Linked DNA regions of Homo sapiens: region 2 is linked to region 1. A link means that fine-mapping ties the variant in region 1 to the expression of a gene that starts in the linked region. Tissue or cell type: whole blood. Region 1 holds a variant in brackets; the other region holds the start of a gene. All regions are shown on one strand. Distances are between the middles of the regions.

Evidence for each region. PIP is the estimated chance that this variant, and not a neighbour inherited with it, causes the effect.
Region 2: TMEM181 starts here. The variant in region 1 is fine-mapped to the expression of TMEM181 in whole blood (TOPMed, PIP above 0.99).

Annotation. Positions count from the first base shown.
Region 1 is chr6:158,431,340-158,436,683 of GRCh38, reverse strand. All of the region lies in intron 3 of TULP4 (TUB like protein 4), which reads right to left. Among named protein-coding and RNA genes, the nearest start is that of SNORA116, 110 kb to the right of the region's middle. The variant C/T (reference allele first, on the strand shown) is at 2,410.
Region 2 is chr6:158,557,162-158,562,161 of GRCh38, reverse strand. It overlaps TMEM181 (transmembrane protein 181), which reads right to left and starts at 2,071. Exons shown (of 17, transcript NM_001376852.1): 1 at 1,930-2,071. The coding sequence starts at 1,937. RefSeq lists enhancers at 40-539, 540-1,041 and a silencer at 1,461-2,380.

The DNA of each region.
Region 1 (5,344 bases):
CCTCCTTTTAAAAAGGTTTAGTATTTATAAAGAAATATTACCTCTACTCCCGGAAAACTAAAATCTGGATATTGCTAGCAAAAACATGTATGAGGTGAAGAATTCTCATTTCAAAAACAACTGCCTTCTAAACAAGGGCAATTTCTATAGAATATTCTTTAAATAGGGAGATTCCTGTAGGTGGGTAGTTAAAATATAATCATGTTTTCAAAAACTCACTTTACCTACATTCTTTCATCCACTATATAAAGTGAAGTATACCTGTACCTGTATTTCAGGAGAACCATTAACCTCCCTTCAAGTGATACATTCTGGTCAAGTTACATGAAACCTTAAATACTTTCAGTTAAGCTGGTTTGAGCACAATCATCTATAAACTTTAAGTATAAATAAATAGTCTCAGATAGAAACATAGGAAGTGGAATCAACAGGACCTGGTGACTAAGTGAAGGTTGGAGGTACAGAAAAGAGAGTCCAGGCTGGGCATGGTGGCTCACACCTGTAGTCCCAGCACTTTAGGAGGCTGAGGCAGGCAGATCACTTGAGGTTAGCGGTTCAAGACCAGCCTAGCCAACCCCGTCTTTACTAAAAATACGAAAATTAGCCAGGCATGGTGGCGCATGCCTGTGTGGTCCCAGCTACTTGGGAGGGTGAGGCACAAGAATCGCTTGAACCCGGGAGGCGGAGGTTGCAGTGAGCCGAGATCGTGCCACTGGGCGACAGAGCGAGACTCCACCTCAAAATAAAAAAAAAAAAAGAGTCCCAGTTTAGGGGATAAAGGATTCCCAGTTGAGGGCACAAACGATGAGCAATTCCCAGTTTAGGGCATAAATGATAAGCAAGATAAGAGTGCAGATGAGGGACCGGAGGGAGGAGAGGCAGGGGGGAGAGGAAGCTAAGTTCAGACCACAGTGGACTTGAGCAACGTCTACGTCTATCCGGAGTTGCTCTGCAAGCATGGTGGTGGTGGTGACGGTGATGGTGTCGCAGTGTGAAGGACAAGAGCGATGAGCGCGGGATAGGTGTGGGGAGCCAGCAGCAAACAGATGGGAGCTGATGCAGCTGTGGCAATGGAGGAAATCACCCAAAGGATGGAAAAAAGGGGAGAGGTCTGAGGTTGGAACCTAGGAAGGGGGACCGAGTTGGATGGAAAGGCATGCCATGTAAGAGCCGGGGAGGGAGATGACAGCGATGGGAGGAGGAGGCAAGATCCAGCTGGGAGAGGCACTGCAGAAAGGACGTGCCTGGATGTGCTGACAGGGTCCAGAAGACGCCAACCAAGGTAGCCGAGCAGAGGATGGAAGCACCAGGCTGCCAAGGAGACCGCATCTGAGGCCAAGAGCCCAGAGAGAAGCATGCTCTGTGGCTCCTGGGGCAAGAAACAGGAACCACTGACTGGGGAGGGAAGCTGCAAATGCCTGGAAGACATACACAAGATACTCATCTTTGCTTGACCCAGGACAGGGGGCTACCCTGACTGTGGGGGGAAATGGGTGTCACTAACTTCCATAAGCTTTAACGCCTTGAAATTGTCTTAAGATGATTTAAAAAATGGTTCATGCACCCATATTATGTATGTGCCTCACTGCAGGAGCTCTCTGGAGATGGGGTATCAGAGATGACACAGGGACAAAGCCGCAGCCTGGGAAGAGTTCTGGGCAGAGCCCGTTGTCTCCCACAGCAGAGAAACGTGTGGGGGCTGCTTCTTGGAGCTCCCCCAGACTGGCAGGAACAAGGAGAGAGTCTTCTTCCCATGCCATTTCATGTATGTGGTAACTTTCATTCAGAAGTTACCACAAAATTCTTCCACATTTAAACTGGAGTCTCAAATTGAAGTTTGGGGCTCTTCTTTTGACCTTTCCTCAGTGGCCTCAGGCACATCAGCTGGTCACCGCCCTAGGAGGACCACACTCAGCATGGAAATGCTGGGTGGCATATCAGCATGTCAACCTTTTTCATGGAAACACAGCTCAGGTTCTCATTGCATTCTCTAGTTGAAAGGCTTTCCAAGTGAATTGACAGTTAGCTAAGATCCAAAACATGCTGGAAGAATATTTCAAAATGTCAACGTCTCAAATAATTTTCACATATCAAGGGGCAAGGTATTCTCCTAAACCCAAGGAGAACACAGACAATGAAACATTCGCTCTGGCAGACCCTGCTGTGATGCTGGATGTTTCCAGAACTGCAAAAGCTTCACTGTTGCAGCATTACTCTGCGTCAACTTAGGACCCAGATATTTTTCCCAGTCATACTTATATTTATTTGACATTTTCTCTTTGTGTCATTCTGGTTTGCTCCCAAGCCCTATAAAACCTGTTCTATTTACAAATATATCCTAAGTTTATCAAGCTGAGTTTATATCACTATTTCTTCTGTAACTTTTATATTCTCCAAAATATTTTCTAT[C/T]AGTCTATTATGGACTGAATTGTGTGCCCCAAAACTCATATGTTGAATTTTGTTGAACAAATGTGTTGAACCCCAAATGTGACTATTTTTGGAGATGGGGCCTGTAAAGAGGTAACTACAGTTAAATGAGGTAATATGGGTGGGAACCTAATCCAACAGGACTGGTGTCCTTACAGGAAGAGGAAGAGACACCAGAAATGTGGGTGCACAGAGAAAAGTCCACGTGAGAACACAATAAGAAGGCAGGTGTCTGTAAGCCAAGGAGACAGGCCTCAGGAGAAATGAGACCTGCCAACACCTTGATCTTGGACTTCTAGCCTCCAGAAGAACTGTGAGAAATACACTTCTGTTGTTGAAACCGCCCAGTCTGTGATATTCTGTCATGGCAGCCCAAGCAAACTAATACAGAGTCCTCACCCACTAAATAAATTCCAGGTAGGATTACATTCCCTTCTTGCAATTTAATGGAAGATGAATTTTAGCCTGAAGTAAAACACATCCTTTGAACAAATCAGCTGTTTAAGTGTAGATGACATTAACAACATGCTGTGAAAAATAACTTTTTTTTGAGACAGAGTTTCCCTCTTGTTACCAGGCTGGAGTGCAATGGCGCCATCTCGGTTCACTGCAATGCCTCCTGGGTTCAAGTAATTCTCCTGCCTCAGCCTCCGGAGTAGCTGGGACTACAGGCACGTGCCACCACGCCTGGCTAATTTTTTGTATTTTTAGTAGACGGGTTTCACCGTGTTAGCCAGGATGGTCTCGATCTCCTGACCTCGTGATCTACCTGCCTCGGCCTCCCAAAGTGTTGGGATTACAGGCGTGAGCCACTGCGCCTAGCAACTTTTGTTTTTACAAAGGTTCCATTAAACTCAGCAACCCTCAGACTAGGATGAGACATTATACACTTTTTAGTGTGGTTCAGAGTAAAGAATATGTTACCTTTAAAGTATTCTTGCCAAAATTGTTTACTCCAACTCTAGTCTAGACTTAACTTCCAGTTTATAGGAAATACAAGGGCCGGAAGGAAAATGATACTATAAGTAAACACAATCAGACAAATCTAGAGTGTGGGGACAGCGTGTAAGGTGGCCACACTGACCTCATGAAAAAGTCAATTTAAAAAACGGGAAACTGTTCTAGACTAAAAGACTGTAGAGACAGAACAACCAACTGCTGTACATGAATTAAACTGGATCCTGGTTCCAAAAAACCAAAAAAGACTATGAAATACATTCCTGTAACAATTAGGGAAATAAAAAGGTAGCCTAGATACCAGATAATGTCATTGCTAATTTCTTAGGGGTGCCTGTGCAGGTGAAAGGCTTTATTCTCAGGAAACACATGTTGAAATATATAAGGGTGATGTGCCACGATGTCTACCACTTACTTTCAAAAACAAGAACTACAAAAAAGTGGGGAGTGGTGAGGAAAAAGTGCAAATATGGCAAAATGTTTCAGGAAGGTTTATTTTCTCAACTTTTCTGTACATTTGAACATATTCATAATAGAAAGTTGGCAAAACAGCGCACAATACAGGCACATGCCACTATGCCCAGCTAATTTTTCTATTTTTAGTACAGACGGGGTTTCACCATGTTGGCCAGGATGGTCTCAATCTCCTGACCTCATGATCCACCCGCCTTGGCCTCCCAAAGTGCTGGGATTACAGGCGTGAGCCACCGTGCCCAGCCATGCACTGCTTATATTTTTTAAAGTTGACAGGAAGTAGCCTAAAATCCCACTATAATCCAATATAGCTCAAGATGTGAGGAAGAGGTTTACTCCTGGAAGCTATTTTAACTCACATTAAAGGCAGAAAGTTCTCAGGGAAGCAGGAAGAGACTCATCCGGCTTCCTGCAGCTCTACCTTCATGTCCACCGTTCAGAGCCCCTGAGCTGCAGGGGTGCGCTTTCCACATCCAACTCCTGACATTACAGACATCAGGCTGGCCCACAACCTGTCTATGGACTCTTTTTTCATTGATAAAATCAAACCAAGCAAGAGATGTGAATGAGTGGTAGAGACAGGAGGAGGAGTATTCCTGCTCTATGTCTCAGTTCAAACAAGACTGAGTGCCTGATACACATGTTCTCTGTGGTAAATTTTTCCCAGGGTCCTTATTGCTTCAGTGACCTGCAAATCCTTTTTTTTTTTTTTTTAATTTTTTTTTTTTTCAGAGATGGGGTCCTGCTATGTTGCCTAGGCTGGTCTCGAGAACTCCTGGGCTCAAGTGAGCCTCCCACCTCAGCCTCCTGACTAGCTGAGACAACAGGCACCCTGCTGCAACCATTTTATTTAAAGGCAGTGGGGGCGCTTTCCTAGAACAAAATCCCACCTGTTAGTAAAAGCAGTCATCAGGACAGAGGCTGCGGCCACGTACCCAATTGCTTGCCACATCAGCTCTTTCCTCACGCCAAGGTCTACAGACTCAAGGCCAGGCACGTCAGCATGGCCTCCATGCTTCCCATGGCCATTGTCCTACCGACTCCTCCAGCCCCAGGAGTCCCCCTTCACGTTCCACGGCAGCAGGAAACCACTCCCTGTGGTACGTGCACACCATGGTGTCAATACCCTGGAACTCTGCTTGGGCTGCCTGGAACAACGTACCCCAGATTCGACTTGGGAGTCACAGCCAGCCCTTCCTGGGAAGTCCTCCTCCACACGTTGCCAAGCCACGGCAGCAGATTCTGTGTAAGGAGAGGTCTGTCTCCTCAACAGGTCCAATTGTACCTCAAAGGCAAGAGCTGCGTCTCTCTCACTGCTGTATCCCCAGTGGGTCCCCTGCCTGTCCTACATGTGCACAGTCTGCTGGGGACACTGGCTGGCACAACTCATCAGAGGACCATGAGATGAGCCTCACAGATGGCTCATGGGTTCCATCACTCTAGGCGAGGGAAGAATGTGAAGCCAAGACATCCACTCCTGGATTTT
Region 2 (5,000 bases), 130 kb before region 1:
GGGCCGAATGAGAGTCAGAGGTCATAAGGCCAGGGTCTGCAGGGGGACGGTCCCCTACACACCGTAAGCAGAGTGGTGGAGCTGCCCCTGCTCCTCCAAGCGGCTCTGTTCTCTCCCATTCTTTCCCTGGACTTCTCTTCTTTCTCACCTTTCTCACCTCTGGGCTCTCAGGCACACCAGACAAGGACAGAGAACACTCAGTCACCTAAGTCCAGGACGCACTTCGGATTTTCAGGCTTGTTTTTTAGGAGGATTTTATCTGCTACCAAACTCTTCTCAGTTTCCAGGTAGGTGCCTGGAATGCTGGCCGATGGTGGTGGGCTGATTTCCAGATACCCTCATCCCCCTCCGTCTTCCCTAACCCTCTTAGTGCTCCACAGAGCCTGAGGCACAAAGCGCTTACAGCTGCAGGGGGAGGCCTCAAACTCGCACAAAATTCAAGCTGCGTTTTGCTTGTCCTCCTCGGGACCTTTCCTTGGTCAACTGCTTTCTTTGGTCTAGTTCCCTGTCCTGTAACAGCGCAGGACCCTGGCAGAAGACCCAGATCCCTGTCCTGGCCAAGGCCCTCACCACCTCACGTCCCCGGCCTCTCTCCTACTGAAAAAGCACACCCAGCCCACCTATGCAGCTCCAAGGGGCAGCGCGTGAGAGAACTCCTGTAACACGCAGCTGTCACTCTGCTACAAGGCCACAGTTCCACAAGACACCGTTCCAAGCAGTATTATTTACATAGGCCGCACAAGAATCTTGCCCTCTGGAGTTGTGCAGAGGCAATACTGCTAACCTACCTCCACTTGGCTTTTAAAATCTTTAAAACATCCACATAGGTCTGATATTTGATGCCATTCCAGTTTCCCAAGAGGTGCTAAAGCAACATACCAAAGTCAGAAACTTCTAAGGAAGCAGAAGGAAAAACAGATCTCTCTGTCACAGGCACTTGCGCTGAGGCAACAGGCCTGGGTGTCACTTCTCTGACCACGTCCACAGCCAGAGAAATCAGCAAAGATCCAAAGCAAAACCCTTCTGCCTCAAAAACCGCATATAAGCCAAGAAGCGCGCCCAGGCCCCTCGGAGGCTGCCTTCAGTGCAGGGAGCCGGCCCTGGAAGCCTCCTGCGCCAGGCGCGGCTGCACATATGGGCCACTCCTTCTCCCGGACTTTCTGCAACTCCACGCGGCGCTAACCCTCTGGTTAACTCCGTCTCCTTCTTTTCCAGATGCGCCCAGGGGGACACCTAGGCGACTGCTGGGTCAAAAGCAAGCTTTAGGGATGGCGTCCACGAGACCCCAAACAGGTTTTTCCTCATTAAAAACCCTGGACTTCAAAGAGGTAAAGAAAAAAAAAAAAGCCCAAAGTCAGCAGATCGTAAAACGCATAAAACTCATATAACTCGACACCCCGAGTCCAAAGGGGCTGTTGCGGCAGGCTCCCCGGTGCCCACGTCACCAATCGCCTCTGAGAGCCTCGCACCCGGCGCTGGGCGAGACCGCAGGGCAGCGCGGGGCGCTCTCGATACCGAGGGGACGACGGGGCGGGGCCTTTCCGGCAGGAGAGGCTGCCCGGGAGGCGGCGGGACTCCGTGCGGGCGGCCACCCTACGCCGGGGAAGGGCCGCAGCGCCCCCGGTTCTCTCGGCCCCCCGGTGAGCGCTGTGGCTCGCAGCCCCGTCCCGGAACCCCGACCGCATCCCGGTCTCTAACCGCGGCCGGGCGGGCAGGCAGGAGGGAGCCCCGGCCCCGGTCTACTCTCGCCCCGCGCAAACACCTCCGCCTGACCCGCCCGCGAAGCCCCCTTCAGCGCCCTTTTCCCTGCCCCCAGTTCCACGTGGGCGCCAGGGACCCTGCGGCACGGCGCCGGGAGCCAGGGATCCCCAACTTTCGGCCGGAGTGTCCGGAGAGCCAGCCAGCCCGCCCGCTCGGCCGGGGACTCACGGCTCCATCTCGGCGCCCAGAGCCCTCGGCCCCGGCCCGCGCGTCCCGAGCCCGCCAGGCGCCGCGCAGCAGCCTCGGCAGCGGCAGCCGCAGCCGGAGCCGGAGCGACAGCGGCTGAGCAGCGGCCGGCCGCGGAAAACTCATCAGAGCGCGACGCCGAGATCACGTGCGCGGAAGCGACTCTCACGGCGGAAGAGGGCGCGGCGCGGTGGAAGCGGGGCCGCGGGCGCGCGGCGAGGGGGGTGGCCCTCCTTCGTGGCCCCGTGCCGGGGCGGAGCCCCACGGCCGGGAGCACCCAGGCTAGCCCTGAGCTGGGGCTCAAGACAGAAGGAATGAGTGAATGAATGACTTAGTTTACCTCTTGTCCCTAGGGCAGGTAAACAGCGCATTCATTCACTCCTACTTCCCGAGTGTCGGGGCGTAAGGATGGGCCTCGGGAGTCCACGAATGCCCTGCAGTTGTCTGGAAAACACTATGGGTGTCTGCATTTTTCTAGGGAGAGGAGCTATAGCTGTATATTCATTCCCTAAGGGTCTTGTGACCCCAAAAAAGGTTAAAAGCCAGGACAAACTTCTGCCACCCCGAATGATGACAGGAACCTTCCGGGCTCTTTCTGGTAGCTTCTCCCGCAAGCCGCTTCTAGACTGCAGCTAGACCAGTGGACCAAAAGCACTTTCCTGATTTCGCATCTTGGCTCAGTGTTCCCCATTTCTGTAATCAAGAATGGATGAGAACCAAGGTTTGGCTATTTCTGAGATTCTCTTTGGAGCATTACTCAAAATGTCCCGTGTTCCCGTGTGCTGTGGGTTTAAAGTCGGTCTGCATGAGTTAAATAAAGGACTTCCAAGCTTCCTTTGCAATGTATCCTCATTCATTCACTAAACTGTAAACAGGCTTACTATTGGCAGAAAAGTGTGGACATGAATAAGGAACAGTTCCTGCCCTCAGTGAAATTACAGGCAAAGAAAATTACCAACAGTAAGTTAGGTAGCCTTAGCTCAGGGTGCTACAGTGAGGAAGGGTGCCTAACTCGCCTTGGGGGAGTGGAGAAGGTAGGGGACAGAATGCAGAGTTTGGGCTGAATCTGGAGGGTGAGGTGGATATTAGGAAGAGGGGGGTTAAAAGGGGGAGATACCAAGCAAAGCACACCCTAAGCCAGGACACCAAGGAATAGTTACACAAAATCTCATTAGTGCTCTGAATCCTAAACCGCAACTCTTCAAGGAATAACAAAAGATTATTTCTTAAGTTCTTTTCATACATAAGCAGAGGGAAAGGGTTCTTCATAGCAACAAGACCGGAGAACAGAAACTGGGTACCTGCAGGGACAGACTGTTCACAGGGACGTGGGGCGCGGGAAGGGGTGAGTCGGAGGGAGTTCTATGAGCTAGAGCAGGGGTCCCCAACCCCGGAGCCTGTTAAATTACAGACGTGAGCCACCGCAACCAGCCCAAACATGCGTTTTCATGCAACACCTTCTGTTAAATGTTTAGGCCTGAGGATGCCTCCCTACTTGAGTCCTTACATAAGGAGCTGCAGCCTGGCATAGTTAACATAAAAGAGAAGACACCCTAATTGAGGAGGATGCTTTTGTAACAAACAGCTGAGTCTCAGCCAATCACAGCCAGTGAGCTTCTGTCATTGGCAGGTGGTTAGCTGATTCAAATAAGCTAGAACATAAACCTGTAACCAGTTAAGCTGTCTCTGCGCCTCAGTTCCACTTTCTGTCCATAAATGTTGTCTAACCACGTTGCAGCCCCAAAGTCCTTTGAACCTGTTGGTTCTGAGGGCTGCCCGATTCTAGAATCATGAAGAAAAGCTACTTAGGATCTTTAAATTTGCTGTCATTTTGTCTTTCGACACTTCTGATTCTAAAATGTTGGAAACTAATTCGAAAAAATATCTTAAACCCTGGGAGGGACTAAACAAAGCACATTTGCTGGCCACATTTGCCTAGAGGCAGCCAGTATCTACCTCCAGCCCAGAGCAGCATGAGATGATGTGGAAATCCCTGCTCTGTGCCAGCTGCCTGGTCTCTCCTGAGGCATCTCCAGCGAGAGGAAACTGTCACCACCCCGAGGACCCCTGGCCCTCACTGTGTGCATTTGACTCCAAACTACCTCCTGGCAATTCCTTCCTGTCAGATCTCCCTGGATTTGCTGTCCAGCGTCACCCAGGTCAGCATGAGCCCTCTCCCAACACTCCTTCAAGGATGTGAACAACCACATGGCCCTCAGCTCCTCTTCTCCCGTCATACTCGTTTTCTCATTTATTTGTTCTTCAAACATTAATGGAGCAGTGTGTGTGTGCCAGGAACAACTCTCAGCTCTGGAAACACAACACGAATAGACAGATGAGGTCCCTGTCCTTTTCTAGTCAAGAACAAACAATAACCTAAATAATTACTTAATTGACCGGGCATGGGCATGGTGGCTCACGCCTATAATCCCAGCACTTTGGGAAGGTGAGGCGGGGATCACCTGAGCTCAGGAGTTCAAGACCATCTTGGCCAATATGGCGAAATCCATCTCTACTAAAAATACAAAAATTAGCTGGGCGTGATGGCGGGTGCCTGTAATCCCAGGTACTTGGGAGGCTGAAGCAGGAGAATTGCTTAAACCCAGGGGGTGGAGCTTGCAGTGAGCCAAGATCACGCCACTGCACTCCAGCCTGAGCAACAGAGCAAGACTCTGTCTCAAATAAATAAATAAATAAATAAATAAATAATTACAGCTGTGATAGAAAAGGAAATGAAAGGTGCTATGATCATGTTATGAAAAGGGGAAAGGGACCCAAACTATTCTGGGCTCTAAGAAGCCTGGTGTGATCTATCAGCCATTTCTCACATGACCTGTTTGTTTTTGAGACAGAGTCTCCCTGTCACCCAGGCTAGAATGCAGTGGCGCAATCTCGGCTCACTGCAGCCTCTGCCTCCCACTCAAAAGATCCTCCGGCCTCAGTCTCCCATGTAGCTGAGACTACAGGTGTGCACTAACACAACCAGCTAATTTTGTATTTTTTGTAGAGACAAGGTTTCACTATGTTGTCCAGGCTGGTCTTGAACTCCTGGG